Homo sapiens: one gene and its partner. The protein of the gene in region 2 purifies or fractionates together with the protein of the main gene of each other region. This does not show direct contact. Each region holds a gene or a part of one and is shown on either strand. Other genes may lie near its edges.

Region 1 (9,611 bases), on a different chromosome or scaffold from region 2:
AACATTCTTTTATAAATACACATATGCCAGGATGGGTGAAAGAGCCAACATCCTGTGGAAACAAACATCAAATGTTGACATCTGATTCTGTCTTCATTTCACCATCAAGACTACATACTCATAAATAATGTACAAACACACACAATAACTTCATTATAACACTACAAGAAGTTTTTGTTACTGTTTTTTGAGAGACAGGTTCTCACTGTGTCACCCAGACTGCAGTGCAATTGCAAAATTCTAGCTCACTGCAGCCTCAAACTCCAGGGCTCAAGCGATCCTCCTGCCTCAGCTTCCTGAGTAGTTTCCTAGCAGGACTACAGGTATGCAAACCACGCCTAGACAATTTTTAAAATATTTTTTAGAAACATGGTCTCAGAATGTTGCCTAGGTTGGTCTCAAACTCCTGAGTTCAAGTGATCCTCCATCCTCGGCCTGCCAAAGCACTGGGATTACAGGTATGAGCCACCGCACCCAGACTGTTTTTAGTCACATCTGAGTATGTCAACCAAAAAAATTTTGGTATTCAGTATTCCGTATTCAGGCAGCTTAATTTTGAAAGACTGTAAATGGGCCAGGCATGGTGGCTCATGCCTGTAATCCAAGCACTTTGGGAGGCCGAGGCAGATGGATCACATGAGGCCAGGAGTTTGAGACCAGCCTGGCCAACATGGCAAAACTCCATCTCTACTAAAAAACACAGAAATCAGCCAGGCATGGTGGTGTATGCCTGTAATCCCAGCTACTGGTGGGGGAGGGACTGAGACACGAGAATCGCTTGAACCCTTGAACTTGGGAGGCGGAGGTTAGAGTGAGCCCAGGCCCCGCCACTGCACTCCAGCTTGGGCAACAGAGTGAGACTCTGTCTTGAAAAAATAAGAAAGACTGTAAACGAATGCTGTAACTGCTACAGTGTACAAAAATTAAATATTACCCCATGCATGCAGGTTGGAACTTCAGATTTGGAATAGTTTCAACCAATTCTTCTCTTATCCCACTTCAATCCATTTTTCACACAGAAATATGAAATTGTCACGCCTCTGCTTAAAATCCTTCAACATCTCCTCATTGTTCTTAGAATAAAGTCCAAACAAGGCATGAACTGACCTTGACTGCCACTCCAACCTCATCCCCCACTCCACACACCAACTCTGCTGCAGCCCTGCTGGTCCTTCTGTTCTGCCTCCTACAGCTGCTCCCATCTCAGGGCTTGTGTCCCAGGTGGTGCCTTCTCAGCCTGGACTCTTAGCTTAGATGTCATCATAAGACAGGCCTTCCCTGACTACCCCACTCACCCTTGAGTCCATTTCATCAGCCCCTTGTCTGTTCCCCTCATATATCTTACAATCAAAACTATTTTTTCATGGAAAACACAAAAGTCAGGTGAAAAATACCACATCTCTCTCACCATTTTACCCCCAATAATTACTAGGTTGGTGCGAAAGTCGTTGCGGTTTTTGCCTTTTTTTTTTTTTTTTTAAAAAAAAAAAAAAGGCAAAAACCGCAACGACTTTCGCACCAACCTAATAGCATGTACTGGACACTAAGTAAATATTTATTCAGTAAATATATAAATGAGTGAGCAAATCAAAACCATGGAATAAATAAATATCTTAGAGATATTTTTCTAACTCTTTTGAAATATCTTTTACTTCTATTAGAGAAAAATACTCAGCATTTTTAACTCATGACATTCTATAAATAAATTAATCCATTATTTGTAATTTACACCAAGATGCTTGTTCAACTCTTTGGCAATGGTAATTTTTCAAAATCAGTCACTGCTATTTGATTTGGTTTCTCAAGAGCTGTGGGCAAAATGTGGTAATAAGAGCATCATTTTAATGGTAAATGAATAAGTGAAGTCACAACAAGATTCAATTAAATTCTAGCCCCAGGTGCAACTACAGATGCTTATGGTCTGTGAAAAATCCCAGTGTATCAGAAAACAACTACAGCAATCAGCTGAATAAAGCTCAATTCCTAAGGGGTCAAACTATTAAACTGTAATTATCTAGAGTAGGCACTAAAAACCATTTACCTAGGTTAATTCTCATGTGTAAACACAATAATGTGGCATTTTATCATTCATATGAACACAGGCCAAAACACTATTGGGCTGCATTTAGCTATTTCATTAAACTTAATTTTATAAAATACATTTAGGAAGCTCCAGCTTCATTGTGTATCTCCTAAAAAGCTCTCATAATATAGTGATCAAGGGCTTATAAACACATTTGAAATTATATCCCGGAATTTTCTCTTCCTAAGAAGTACAAGATACAGAACAATAACTGAAAACTTAAGAAACACTGGAAAAGATATACTAAGAGAATAAGAATGGAAACCAGTTAAAAAGATATATTCATACCAAAGAGTGATTATTGGCCAGGCACGGTGGCTCACACCTGTAATCCCAGCACTTTGGGAGGCTGAGGCAGGTGGATCACCTGAGGTTAGGAGTTTGAGACCAGCCTGGCCAACGTGGCAAAACCCCGTCTCTACTAAAAATACAAAAATTAGCCAGGTGTGGTGGCGCATGCCTGTAATCTCAGCTGCTTGGGAGGCCGAGGCAAAAAAATTGCCTGAACCCGGGAAGCAGAGGTTGCAGTGAGCCGAGATCATCCCACTGCACTCCAGCCTGGGCAACAGATTGCAAGACTCCACATCTCAAAAACAAAAAAAAAGAGCAATTATTAAAACCACAGACTATGTCATCATTGAAACCCTATCGACGAGTCCTTATCTTTTAAAGAAATGTGCTGAAATATTCACAGATAAAATGATAGGATATCTAGGGATGTGCTTCAAAACCATTTAGCAAGAAGGGAACAGGGAAGGCTACATAGGATACACTAAGCAAGGCTGGCCGTGAGACGATCGTTATTAAAGAGGGTGGTAGGTGCGTCACACACACTCTTCTCATTCTATAAATGTTTGAAATTCTCCATCATCAACGGTTTAAAAAATTAACCTTATCTCTTAATTGTAGAAAATTCTGTGGCTATTTTAAATTGTGTTCTTTTTTTTTTTTTTGAGACGGAGTCTTGCTCTGTCACCAGCCTGGAGTGCAGCAGTGTGATCTTGGCTCACTGCAACCTCCGCCTCCTGGATTCGAGTGATTCTCTTGCCTCAGCCTCTCGAGTAGCTGGGACTACAGGCACACACCACCATGCCTGGCTAATTTTTGTATTTTTAGTAGAGACGGAGTTTCACTATGTTGGCCAGGCTGGTCTTGAACTCCTGACCTCAGGTGATCCGCCCACCTCTGCCTCCCAAAGTGCTGGGATTACAGGCATAAGCCACCACGCCTGGCCCAAAATTGTGCTCTTAAAGACGATTTAAGGATATGAGTAGATGCATATAGTTATTATGCTAAGTGAGATAAACATGAACAACATGATCCAGAAGGTGTGTATCTGGAATGGTAACAACTGTTATCTCTTGGTGGCAGCATTACAAGATGATTATATTTTCTTCTGTACACTTTTATAGTTTTTCAAAATTCTCTACAATGAACAGGAATTAGTTACAAAATCAGGGGAAAACCATAAATGTTATTAAAAAATAAAATAAAAGTAATCGTTACCATTTTCCTCTGACACCGCATATTCAAACAGATTGTTTAGCTTTGGTAAAACTGGCTTTATAACATGTATCTAAAAATAAGAGCAAAAAAATCATATGAAATGAAAATGCATCTTGAAAAATGTCAGGCAATTTTCATCTCTTTATTTCACAGTAGCTCTTCTGTTTCTACAAAACATATGTAGAAAGAGCCTGATTTATCCAGTTTTTCAAACAATAGTATGATTCAGGTATGTAAGACTGAGTATGGCAAAGCTAATGAATATAACCACATTACAGCTACATTAAAGTCTACCATTTATACAGTGATTATCATAAATCATGTCATAGAATCCTCAACTGTCCTGGCAGGCAGGTAGGACTGCCAATACTAAGATATTACAAAGAGAAAAAAGACACTGAAATGTTTTCTCTAGTCACTCAAGTTGTTCATGGCTGCACACGCTTAGAACGGCCAGTTCGGAGTTCCATGTTCTTAATACCACATAGCCAAAGTTGCTGACACGTTTGCTTGAGATTAATTTACATATCCTTCAAAATATGGATAAATTTGGGTTTCTAAATAAATAATGGGGGTTTTATGGATCTACTGATTAAAGAAAACCATAAAAGTTAATTTGAATTTAGAAATGCTTTTTCTTTACTCCTCATCCTTGCATCTATATATATTTAGCACATATAAGTAATTATTTAAGTCCACAAACAAGGTTTGGTGCACATTTGGATTGACACCTCACAATGACTCCACAGATGGCTGGCACCTCTGTGGTCCCCAACTTGCAGAATGGAAACCATGGTTCTCAAAGTGTAGTTCCCAGAACAGCAGCATACATATCACCTGGGAACTTGTAAAAAACTCAAAAGTCCTGGACGGGTGCGGTGGCTCACGCCTGTAATCCCAGCACTTTGGGAGGCCAAGGCGGGTGGATTACTTGAGGTCAGGAGTGCAAGACCAGCCTGGCCAACATGGTGGAACCCCATCTCTACTAAAAATACAAAAATTAGCCAGTGTCGTGGCTGTAGTCCCAGCTACTTGGGAGGCTGAGGCAGGAGAATCACTTGAACCCAGGAGGCGGATGTTGCAGTGAGCTGAGATCGTGCCACTGAACCCCAGCCTGGGCGAGAGAGCAAGACTCTGTCTCCAAAAAAAAAAAAAAAAAAAAAAAAAAAACTCAAAAGTCCCAGGCCCCACCCCGACCTACTGAACCAGAAAGTCTGAGGACAGGGCATGGCAATTTATACTTTATAATAAGCCATTTGGGTGATACTGATACTGATAAACGTTAAAGTTTTAGAATGGCAAGGGAAGATCAAATTTTTGAATAATTTGTCAACTGAAAGTATTCTTTAACTTCCTGAAACAACTTACACTCTAAGTTGCATTTATGCCAGACAACAAAGTATACTTGGATTCTATCATCACCAGCTATATCTGAGTTAGTCTCTTTGTATCGCTTTTAATGAATGTTTTTAAAAAAGAAAAATTGTTATCTACTGTAGGATTTGCTAAAATAGAAAAACACTTACCTGATTTCCTTCTAAAGTCTCCATAATTAAAATATAATTTTCCCAAAACTTTAGAAGCTCATCTTTTTTCCTCTCAGACCACCAAAACAGACTTGGGCCTGATATGGTTTAAAAAAGAAAATTAGTTCTTCCTTTTGCAAATTTCATAAGTTTCTCAATGACAGCAGTTCTTAAAATAATGCCACTATTACCAAATGGATTCTCTAATAATGGAGGTGCCCCTGTATCAGAGCCTGGATAGGGGGCTTGGGAATCTCAGAGGGAGATTTTTTTTTGCACTAAGATTACTGTTTTGGAGTTCTGGGTAAAAATGGCAGATTTGCACATATAAACTCTACTTTCTCTCCCTAAGAATCTCACTATAACAGTAAAGGATTTTTCAAGGGCAAAACCCCAAAAGAATGGAGAACACTGGGGGCAGACAACAGCAATAAAATACAGAATCTGAAAATCAGATGAAAACCAAGTTGACTCAAGTCATGAGAATTTTAAGTTGACAAAGGGAAAGCCAGGAAACAATTTGATTTATGCTGCAAAATCCCCCGGAACCAAAGGAAGTGGCTGCAAAAGTTACTCTGGTAAGTGGAGTGAAAAGTGAGGCTAAACCAAAGAGGATGTGTTCAGTGTTTAAGAAACAGTCACATCCCCAGGCCACTTTCCTATGTCCTGAACAGGAAAAGACTAGAACTGCTTTTCTGGAGAAGGTAAAATAGTGCGTCTCTGAATTGGGAGGCACAGGACACAGCAGACATTAGTCCTACTGACAAAGGGGATTCAGCGAACATGTGTGCACCCTGGGTGCTGCGACTCCTCTCTACCTGCCCCCTCAGGTCCTAGAATGCTGGCCAGGCCCTCACTATGCATCAGACAACTGGAAGATGTTCTCTGCAGAATCTGGCCAGCCCAGGAGGAAAGATCTGAAAATATATCAGAGATTCCTTAATGAAATGGCTTGGCCAAATCACCTTATGGTGAAGTTCAGTCAACAGCACCACTCATGGGCTTAGAGCTTTAAACCCAATTTTGATTTCTTATCCTTAAACATAAATAGGGATCTAAGAATCATCAGACAGTTGGGGAAACCTCTACACTAAAGATCAAGACCAAAACAAATGGAGTGGGAGGAGGAAATTGGAGAAAACAAAATTACACAGGTAGAAGAAAACTTTTAAAAGAGTTTTCAGCAATATCTTAAGAAGATAGTAGTATTATAAGAACAGGATATTATTAAAAAGGGGACATTCTGACCAGGCTTGGTGGCTCATGCCTGTAATCCCAACACTTTGGGAGGCTGAGGCAGGAGGATTGCTTGAGGCCAGGAGCTTGAGACCAGCCTGGTACAACATAGCAAGACCCTGTCTCTACAAGGAAATTTAAAAAATTATCAGGGCATGGTGGTGCACACCTATCGTCCCAGCTTCTCTGGAGGCTGAGATGAGAGGATCACTTGAGCCCAGTATTTTGAAGTTATAGTGAGCTATAATCACGCCACTGCACCCTAGCCTGGGCAAGAGCGAGGATTTGTCTCTAAAACACACACACACACACACACACACACACACACACACACACACAAAGGGGACATTTAAAAAAAAAAACTCAATCCAAAATCATAGAAAATCCTTAGGAGAGAAAAGATGCTTTCAAGAAAGTCCAGGAAGTTCAATATCTAAAAAAAGAACAGAAAACAGAAAGGGACGAAATAATCCACAGAATATTCTAGAAAATTTCCCAGAACTGAAGAACATGATTTCCAGATTGCACAGGAGGTCCAGCAAGTGCCCAGCACAAGGATGAAAATAGACTCCTATCAAAACTGTGAAATTTCAGAATGCTAGAGCCACTGATCCTACACACTTCCATAGAGAGAAACAGTTCCTGTATAAATAAACAGGATTCAGAATGGTTTCAGATTTCTCAACAGCAATACTGGAAGCTCTAGCTTCTGGGACAATAGATAGATACCTTTAAAATTTTGAATGGAAATATCTTCCAGGCTCGAATTCTACCCTCAGTCAAACCATCAATGAAATATGAGGACAAAATAAAGGCATTTAGATATGTATCGTTTCAGTTGCTCATTAGGACATAGAAAACCATAGGAGATCGTTATTGTCATACAAAGAGGAAAGGCTGAAAAATCTACAAAATCCTAAACTGTTGTGCGGTGGGTGGGGGGAGCATCAGAACTGAGGTCACAATGCAACCTGAATTCTAAAAGGAAGGAAGGCGCTCCAAGAATGGAAAGGCCACTTATCTGTTCTACTTCTGGCACAGGAGCAAGACATGGTCACCCAAAAAGCAGTTTTAAAAATGGCATTTTGACAAGTTTTTAAAGACCAAGGTGGGCTAGCCTCACAGCTTGCTGAGGGAGTCCACATCCATTCACCAGCTCTTTTCTTCAAGCCTGCCCCGGTGCTCTCGAGAGAGACTGTGGCCAGGGCAGGAGATCTTCAGAGGCGCAGGCACCCAGGGCAGCAGGACTAACTAGAGAGGCCCAGCCATGCCCTGCAGGAGTACAAGATGGTGATCAACTGCCAAAACGTGCCTGTCCCCCTGGACCCTTCTCCGACAGGAAGCCAAAGCTGTCTGCCCCTCCCACACTCTCACCCTTGTCCCTGCCTTGATACAAGCAAAAGTTGCCTGCCTCTAGGGCAGGGATAGAACCTGCTCCCTTCACTCGGCACTGACACTAGGCGAATGCATCTTATTCTGTGGAAGGGGAAGCAAACCCCCTACTGCCAGATATCCTGCACTGATACAAAGCTGGTCTGCAGGTGCTGGAGGAGGGCAGGACGCTACACCCAAGACCTACCACAGACACTCACGCAGAATGCAGCTGCCACAGGTTAGGGCCAGGAACCTAAACGCACCCCTAAGTTGGAGGCAACGATTATTGCCACTGGAGAGGGAGCACAGACAGCGAAAGAGCAGGAATGCTGACGCTCAGACACATGGGGCCTAAATACAAGGCTGCAGTGGAAGAAATGAAAAGCCCCTGCCTCATCTCTTGCACCAGGGAACAAGCATCAGCAGTCTACCCCTGAGGGAGGGACGAAGCCTTGGCTGAAGACCTCCATCGGTGGCACAGGCCTCCCAGGCTGGAGAAAAACCTTTCGAGACTCCAGGCTTCAGCTAAGCAAGTAGCCACAAAATCTGGGAAAAGTTTGTAAAGTGCACTGAAAACAAATACAGCAACCAACGCCAAACCCAGCTCAACTACAAACTAGACTAACTCAATGCCACAAAGTAACGGTGCCTATCCCAGGCAGAAATATTTACTTCCATCTCTACTGTTATTATAGTAAGACATAAAAAAAAGCGACTCCATAGCCAAACACTACAACAGAAAACAAAGCCAAACTTAGATGGTCCAGGTATCGAACTTGCAGATAACTATAATTGATATGCTAAAGGATCTTGTGGAAAAGGTAAACAATATGCATAAACAGATGAGCAGATGGGGATTTTCAGGAGAGAAACTCCAAAAGCGTCAAATGGAAATGAGAGAAAAACATGATGGCAGACATAAAGGAGCATTTGATGGAATTATCAGACAAACAAGACCTTAAAAAAATCCTATTTCAGGAAACTGCTAGAGAATGCACTGCACTGACACAAGTGAGTAAAGCAAAAAAGAGGAAGATATGAACTACAGGAAATGAGACTCAACAGAACACCCAGGTGAAGGGAATCCCGGGGTAAGCGTGAGGTCTGTGCACCAGGCACAGGGAGAAACCTGCGACATCTGGGCATGTAAGGGGACTCTGGGAGAAACTTCTTCAGGAAAACCTCTGATGATCTGATTTTGTAGAGGAAAGATTTAGTCAACTGGTTAAGAATTTAAGGAGGAATTCGTGGTAAGTATAGAAAGAACCGAACACATTTTAAAACGTCAAAATCATATGAAAAACTTGCAGGAAGAGAAAAATGATCAGTTTCCTACATAGATCACCTGCAAGCAGCATTTACAGTCATAATTTTATAAATGCTGAACACACATTTAACCAAAATTTTAACTGTGACAATATATTTTATGATATAACTAAGATATACTATGTCAAGACATAGGGGTAAATCCCCTAATATTCCGTTAAGAGGCCACAGGATTTGCTTTCTGTAACAGAGGAAATGGGAGTTGCAGGAAGCATGGAAGCACCATTGCTTATCCCTAAAACTGCAAAATAACTGGCCGAGCGCGGTGGCTCACGCCTGTAATCCCAGCGCTTTGGGAGGCCAAGGCGGGCAGATCACCTGAGGTGAGGAGTTTGAGGCCAGCCTGACCAACACGGTGAAACCCCGTCTCTATTAAAAATACAAAATTAGTGGGGCATGGTGGCGCATGCCTGTAATCCCAGCTACTCTGGAGGCTGAGGCAGGAGAACCGCTTGAACCCGGGAAGTGCAGGTTGCGGTGAGCGGAGATTGTGCCATTGCATTCCAGCCTGGGCAACAAGACCGAAACTCCATAAAACAAACAAACAAACAAACAAAACT
Region 2 (7,094 bases):
AAGCTCCGCCTCCTGGGTTCAAGCGATTCTCCTGCCTCAGCCTCCCGAGTAGCTGGGATTACAGGCACCTGCCACTACGCCCAGCTAATTTTTTGTATTTTTAGTAGAGATGGGGTTTTGCCACATTCGCCAGGCGGTCTTGAACTCCTGACCTCATGATTCGCCCACCTCGGCCTCCCAAAGAGCTGGAATTACAGGTGTGAGCCACCACGCCCGGCCTAATGCCCAGATTTTGAAGGTGACACATGTGGATTGACCTACTGCGTGTGCCAGACACCATCCTGTATGCTTGACTCACTCTGTCCTGTGAGATAAAGGCAAGTGACTACTCCCCAAGGCCACCCAGCTAGTGAGTGGCAGAGCTGGGACTCAAATCCCCAAAGATCATGCTCTGTCTCCCCCAGTGTGGGATCCAAAAACCCTGCAGGGCAGAGGAAACCCTGGTCCTAATGCCTGGTCCAGCTCCCTAGCAAGGGCCTGGCAGTGCTGGTGGTTCAGATGTGATACCTGGCCCATGGGGCTTAACACTGAGCTGGAGGCTGCAGGTTTGTGGCTGAACAAGTTAATGAGCTTGTGACCTTTAGGAGGCATGAGGGTACCGTGAGCAATCAGGTCACCTTGTAGCCATGGTCCCTTCCTTACAGGTTTCTGCGCACAGTCCAAGGTCAGTGCAGAGCCCGTGGCCTGGGTGCCAACCCCTGTCCCTTTCTCCACCTAGCTGAGCATTGCCCCTGAGCATTGGTAGCCACACCCCGGCCCCCGCCAGCAACCCGCTCGTGGTTCCCAGGAAACCTTCCAGAGGCAGTGGAGGTCTGGAGACTGGTCTTTAGCTCGTAAAAGTGAACATCCTGAATCCCCAGATAGTGGCACTCAGGGCACAAGTCTTGGCGGGGAGGAAGGAAGCCAGCTGAGTGGGCCAGTACAATCCTGGGACGTCTGCCCCTACGACTGGCAAACCCAAAAGAGGTTTGCGCAGGGAGGGGCCTTGCTGCGGAGATGGAGGAGGGGATGGTTCTGCTCTGCAGAGGAGTGGAAAAGGAACAGAAAAAGCTATGCATCAAAATCCCAGCTTTCCCTGCTAGTGCTGGCAAAGACTTAGAAACCATCCAGGTGGTTGGAGATTCTCAACTATTGTCGATCACAGATGCTTTTGGAAAATCACTGAAGCCTCTGCCCTCTCTCTCAAAAACAACGCAAAGTTTTACAGACAGTTTCGTGAGACATCATGGAACTCCCCGGATTAAGCAGCCCAGTTGATCTACCCTCCTCTTTCAACTCAAAAAGAAATGAAAACCAGAGAGGGCAAGTGTTGGTCAAGGTCACCCTGCAGCTGCTGGGCACAGCCTCAGGGCAGCGCAATCTAGCTGACTCAGGGCTGCAAGGAGTTGGGGGAGGGGCAGACTTGGGAGGCTCCCAGCTTCCCTAAAGGAGAAAGGGGACATTAAAACATGAAAGGGCCCACCAGCCACCTCCGCCACAGGCAACAACTGACTGTAGTAATGGTTCCCTCTAGGAAGAAAGGATGCGAAAAGGTCCTGACCCACCCCCACGTGGAAGATTTAAGGTAGGAACGTTAAGCACTGAGCAGGTAGTGGGAAGGAGCCTGGTAGGGGTGAGAGGAATAGAGTTTCTTGCGGGGTGTAGGAGAGGGCATGGCAGCATTGGCGGGGAAGCCTTGCTACTTAGAAGGGCTAAGAGTCTCCAGCGCTTGCAGACCAGAATCCTGCACCACTTTTTTCCTGTAGAGGAAACTTGTTTTTTTCTTGACGGGGGAGGGATCTCAGAGTGGGGTCGCCTAAGCTTGGGGTAGAGAGCAGCAGGGGGCCCAGAGTTGAAGTACAGCCGTAAAGAACCTGGAAAGGGGGAACCGAAGGACAACCCAGAGTTGGGGCGTCCCACAAGAGACCCAGAGTAAAACTGCGATTTAACTAGGGGCATGCACTTTGCAGAGGGAAGGTGAGCAGCGCGCCACTCCACGCGCAGTCCGGCAGCGCCCCCTTGGGTCACGCAGCCCAAAAGTTCGCTGCGGGGTCAGCAGGGGCGCCCCTCCCCCCACCCGCGCGCCTGCGTACCTCGGAACCACTCCTCGGACTGCAGCGTGCTCTGCACCGCGTGGCCTTCAAGCTGCGCGCGAATCTCGCGCAGCGCCGACGTCACGTCGCACTTCAGGGCGTCGCGCGTCTCGGCCTGCATCTGCGCCTGCGCGGCGCCGGAGCCCTGGATCTGGCCGAGCAGCTCGCCCACCTCTTCCTGGTGGTGGCGCCGCAGGTAGCCGCACTCCTCCTGCAGCGCCTGCGCCTTCTTCTGCAGGTCCACGCGCGCCGCCTCGGCCTCCTGCGCGAAGCGCGCCAGCGCGCGGGCCGCCGCCTCGGCCTCCTCTCGCTGCCGGGCCTCGTCGTCTAGGCGCTGGCGCACGTGCGCGATGTCCTCGAGCAGGTGCTCCTGCTCCAGGCGTAGCTGACCGCGCGCCGCGCCCAGGCGCAGCACCGCGCCGCGCATCTCGCGGACCTCGCGCTCGTACAGCTCGCCCATAGCGGAGCGGCCCGCCTGCTGCTGCCGCAGCGCCGCAGCCTCGCCCTCCAGGCTGCGGTTGTGCGCCTCCAGCTGCCGCACCTTGTCGATGTACCCGGCGAAGCGGTCGTTCAGCGCCTGCAGCTGCTCCTTCTCACTGCGTGAGGTGGCCACCGCCACCATGCAGCCCTCCGGCCCGTTGCTCAGCGTGTCCAGCGAGTCGGTGCTTGAGGCGGCGCCTGCGCCACGGAAGCGGCTGGGCGAGGCGGACACGGAGCTCACGGACGTCCGTGTCCACGAGTGGAAGCCGCTGGAGGAGCCAGCGGCGGAGCGCGTCCCGCCTGCGCCACCCTTTCGGGCTAGCGCGTAGTGGAGGCTGCCGCCGCCATGCAGCGGCGCGAACGGGGCGCCCAGCAGCGCGTCCGCGCCGCCGAAGCTCATCATGGCCTGAGCAGGTGCGCGAGGCCGGGACGGGGCGGGAGGCACTGCGGCAGCACCAGGGCGCCGGCCCTTTTATAGCCGCCGCGGCCGGGTCCAACCCCTTGGCAGTGAGAGGGTGGGGAGGAGGGCCCCGCCCTCTCCGCCTCCTCCCCTGCGGCCCCCCGGCCGACCGGCTCCGCCGCAGTGAGAGGGGCGGGGCAGGGGACCGAGGAGGGAAGGGGAATCGACGCTGCGTCAGAGGAGACCCTCGAGGTCGGGGAAGCGGGCAGAGGACTCCCGGAGTGGGCCAGTGAGGACCCCCGGGTGCGCGTCGGAAGAGCCTGCGAGTGTGTTCGGAATAAGAAAGGGGACTTGAAACAGGGAGAGGACAAGGAGAAACCTGATGGGAATAGGGGCAGGATGCCCTCGGGATGGAGCAATGGAAGATTGCAGTCATTAGGATGAGGGGATCCCTGTATGAGACAGGACACGAGGCTTTCCAAATAGTTAAGAGAGGCTTTCAGGATAGGGGGTGCAGAGACTGTGCAGCCAGCCCCGGAACAGAGGAGGGAGCAAGGCAGTCCTGAATGGGAGCATGGACGCTCCATAGAACGGAGACAGGAGACCCCTGACCGGGGGAGGTACAGTGTTCTCCTAACATCTAGAGGACCCACTTGGAGAGCGCTCAGGAAACTCCGCGGCCAGCCCCGGAATAGATGAAGGGGGACCTGGAGTTGGGGAGAATAGCAAGGCTACCCTGAATGGGGGTATGGGAGACACTGCAGAGGATGGAGAGAGGGAACCCCGGATGGGTGGGGTTGGGGGGAGGCAAGGCGTTCTCTAAAAAGTCTGCAGTGGCCCCCGAGAGAGGAGATGGGAGACCCTGCTGCCAGCCCCAGTAAAGGGGACGGACCCTCAGCGAAGCGGGCAGAAGGTCCCCTGAACAGGCAGGAGAAAGCTGGGCTGAGTTTGAGGGGCAGAGAACCTACAGTGGGGGTACCGTAGGAGGGCTTGGGCATGAAGTTGAGAGAGCTGGCCCCTGTGTGGGGTGGGGGGAAATGATGGGTGTCACCCGAGCCAGCTTCTGCACACTGGGGTCAGCTAGGCAGTTTGCTGGTCGAATGACCTTGGACAAGCTGTGTCCTCCCACCCTTGTTTTTCCATCTGTACAACGAAGGGGTCTTGCCCCAGAGACAAGCTCCAACTCCTGACCCCCGACTGCCCCAGGAAGTTCCACTTTGAGGGGTCTCTGGCTGAACTGGGGATGGGGAACCCACATCTTGCCGTTCTGTCAACACTAGGAAGTCCTCTTTTCTCCCTCCCCCTCCCCATCTTCTCAGCCTCAACTTGTCCTCTCTTCCCCCACTCCTGTAACAGACAAGCAGGCGCCTGAGTCGGCATCCCTTCTCTCTTACAGGGAAGTGATGAGATGCTTTCTGAGTACCAAAGTCCCTCACCCCAATAGGATGTCAGGTAGAAGAAGGGGTCCCCAGGATTTAGGGGGCCCTGCAACGGCTGTGACATTTGGCTCTTTATTGGTTTTGGCTCATGTTTTATGCTGTGGGAGTGGGGGTGGTGCTGCGGCTGGCGCTTCAGCACCGGGGACAGGGCCTGCTCTTTGTTGGGCGTGGGGCGGGGAAAGAGATTAACCCTCTGCTTTTACTTTAGGGGAAGGAAGGGAGGGACACTGTGCTGAGGGGACCCGAGAGGGGAGGCAAGTGATCCAGCAGGGTCACATAGTGAGCCAGGGACCCCTCCCTGGACTTCCTGTCGGGGGTCCAGTTCCGTGTTTTCTGGGCTGTTCCCCTCCTGCTTAGGGACCCCTGCGAAAGGACCCCTGGGGATGCTGGGAGCCCTGAGACGCCCTTGAGAGTTTGTAGACTCGTACTTCCACTCTGAACCTCCCCCAGGCAGTTATCTCAACACCCACTACACCCCTACTTTACGCGGGTTTTCCTGCTCCAGGATCCCCAGGACAGAACAGACATATCCCCCAGGAAAGACCTCTGCCAGTTCCTTTCTCTTTGCCCTCTGTCTCCTTCCAGCCCCCTAGTTCTAAGCAGACCCTCAGAGCTGGGAAATTGATGGCGCTGTCCCTTTAACCACTTTTTACTGGAAGGAGAGTGCGCTGGGAGGAGGGAAGAGGGGGAGGGAGTTTCTGGTTTTGCATGAAGCAGCAGAACATGATGAAGCATTTTTCCCCCATCTAAAGATCCAGTCGTGCTCCAGTTTGCAGAGGGCAAGGGGCTGGTTGCAGGTGGTGCTGGGAGGATGGAGGTGAGTGGCTGGTCTGAGGTCCCTGAGAAAGGCATGGGGCGGGTGTTGGGCAGGACTCCCTTGCTCTCAGATGGCTCCCCATTTATTTGTCATTCTACTTGGAATTTTGCCATTGGAGCCTTGTTCCTCTGGGTCTTTTCAGTCTGCACAATGCTGATACATTCTCTGGATGTGAGAAGGCTCACAAGCAGCTGACAGCAAGGAGGAATGGGGGTTTGGGGTAAAAAGGGGGCTCCAAGATGTATTCTGTTGAGGCCAAGGGGCCACAGCCATCAGATTGAAGCTGCCTATGTAGTCCAAGAAGCCCCAAGCATGACTCTTGTGGCTGGAGAAAATGGCATGAGGGCTGGAGCCCTGAGGTCAGTTCCCCCAAAGGACCCTTCAGGCTCACCTCCAGAAAGCCATCCCTGGCCGCCTTCACCCCCACATTTAGTTAATTGTCCCCTCCTGGTGGTTCCCATGGTTCCCAGTGCTAATCTCTAATGCTGCTCTTACCACTCTGTGGTGTGTAAATGAATCAATGAATGAATAAGTTCCGTCTGTTTTCCAGCCAAACTTGTGGTCTGGAGGGGCTGTGAATGGTTCTGCCCTGAGTCCTTGGGGCTCGAATCGCTTTCACTTTCCTCCCTGTGATTCTTACCATTTGGAAGTGAGTAGAACGATATATTCATCTATCTATCCATCCATCCATCCATCCACCCGCAGTTCTTGGAGTTATCTTCCCAAAGCCTGGACTTGGCAGTGAGCATTGTGAATCTCCCAGAGGCAAGTAGAGTGTGCTGAGTTTCCCAAACTTAACTGCTCTTGGGCCCTTCTTGTCCCCAAGTGTCTCCAGGACAAGGGTCCAGTGGCTCACACTGAAAGGCACACTGAGATTTGGGTCTCAGCCCCTGCTGTCCCTGGGCTTTTGTGGACCCCAAGGCTGGTGCTCTTCAGGAACATACTTGCAGGGTGAAGGATAAAGCAGTAGGCGCTTAAACAGCCACCAGCCTCGCTGCTACTCACTGTTCACTCGGCAGGGATCATTGTCCCTATTTTATAGGCAAGTAGACTGAGACCCGAGTGAGGAAGTGGGTTGCCTGAGTTGACTCAGTGACACAGCAGAGCCCAGTGTCTCAACTCATCCAGACCTGAGCTGGCACAGGACACAGGGTGGAAACTTGTTTCTCTTGCATAGTAGAGGCCTAGATGGTCTGAGGGTAGAGGATTGAGAGGCCTTCAGAGAGGGGATGGGCAGCTTTCTGGGGCTGGGGTTGGGGTCTGGCCTCTGACAGATCACCCATCTGTGAGTCTCTGTGGCCCATGACCCAACATCAGCATAGCCTGTATGTGAGAACCTACTTCCCGGCCTGGGTACCCTCTGACACTGTGTCACCTCTGTGGGAGCTACATGTGACCACTGTTTGAGGTGCAGATGCTAAATTCCTCGTTCTCTTTTCCTGCTTGTTTTTTCTCCATAGGACTTGACGTTTTCTGACATGCTACTATGCATCTTCTCCACTAAATAGAACTTCATCAGGACAGGGATTTTTGTTTGTTTTATTCACTGCTGACATCTCCAGTGCTCGGAATATTGTCTGGCATATAGTGGGTGCGTAGCAAATAGTTTCAGGATGACTGCGAGGCTCTGCCTGAGAGGCCCGTGATCACCCAGACATTTTAGCACTGGGCATCTGGACAGTTCCAGGCCCTAGGGAGGCTGCCCGCAGGTTGACTGGAGAAGGAGGTCTTGAAAGTGTGGCCCCCATCCTGGGGCCTGAAGCCTCCCAGCCCGAGCTGTGTAGTCCCCTTTGCTGAGGCTCAACCTTGCTGGCTTTGTTGTCTGCAGACTCACCCTGCTCCTGCACAGCCTGTTCCTTTTTATGTTCAGCAATTCCTTTTAGGAA

The links.
Region 1: the proteins of NEFH (region 2) and TARBP1 purify together in Homo sapiens (affinity purification with mass spectrometry; 2 studies listed by BioGRID and IntAct, with this or other methods). This does not show direct contact.

Annotation. Positions count from the first base shown.
Region 1 is NC_000001.11:234,467,599-234,477,209, forward strand, and holds part of TARBP1 (tRNA (guanosine(18)-2'-O)-methyltransferase TARBP1), read right to left. Parts: intron 5,214-9,611; coding exon 5,116-5,213; intron 3,660-5,115; coding exon 3,590-3,659; intron 53-3,589; coding exon 1-52.
Region 2 is NC_000022.11:29,476,124-29,483,217, reverse strand, and holds the start of NEFH (neurofilament heavy polypeptide), read right to left. Parts: upstream 3,001-7,094; 5' UTR 2,956-3,000; coding exon 2,073-2,955; intron 1-2,072. UniProt on the Homo sapiens protein: Neurofilaments usually contain three intermediate filament proteins: NEFL, NEFM, and NEFH which are involved in the maintenance of neuronal caliber. NEFH has an important function in mature axons that is not subserved by the two smaller NF proteins.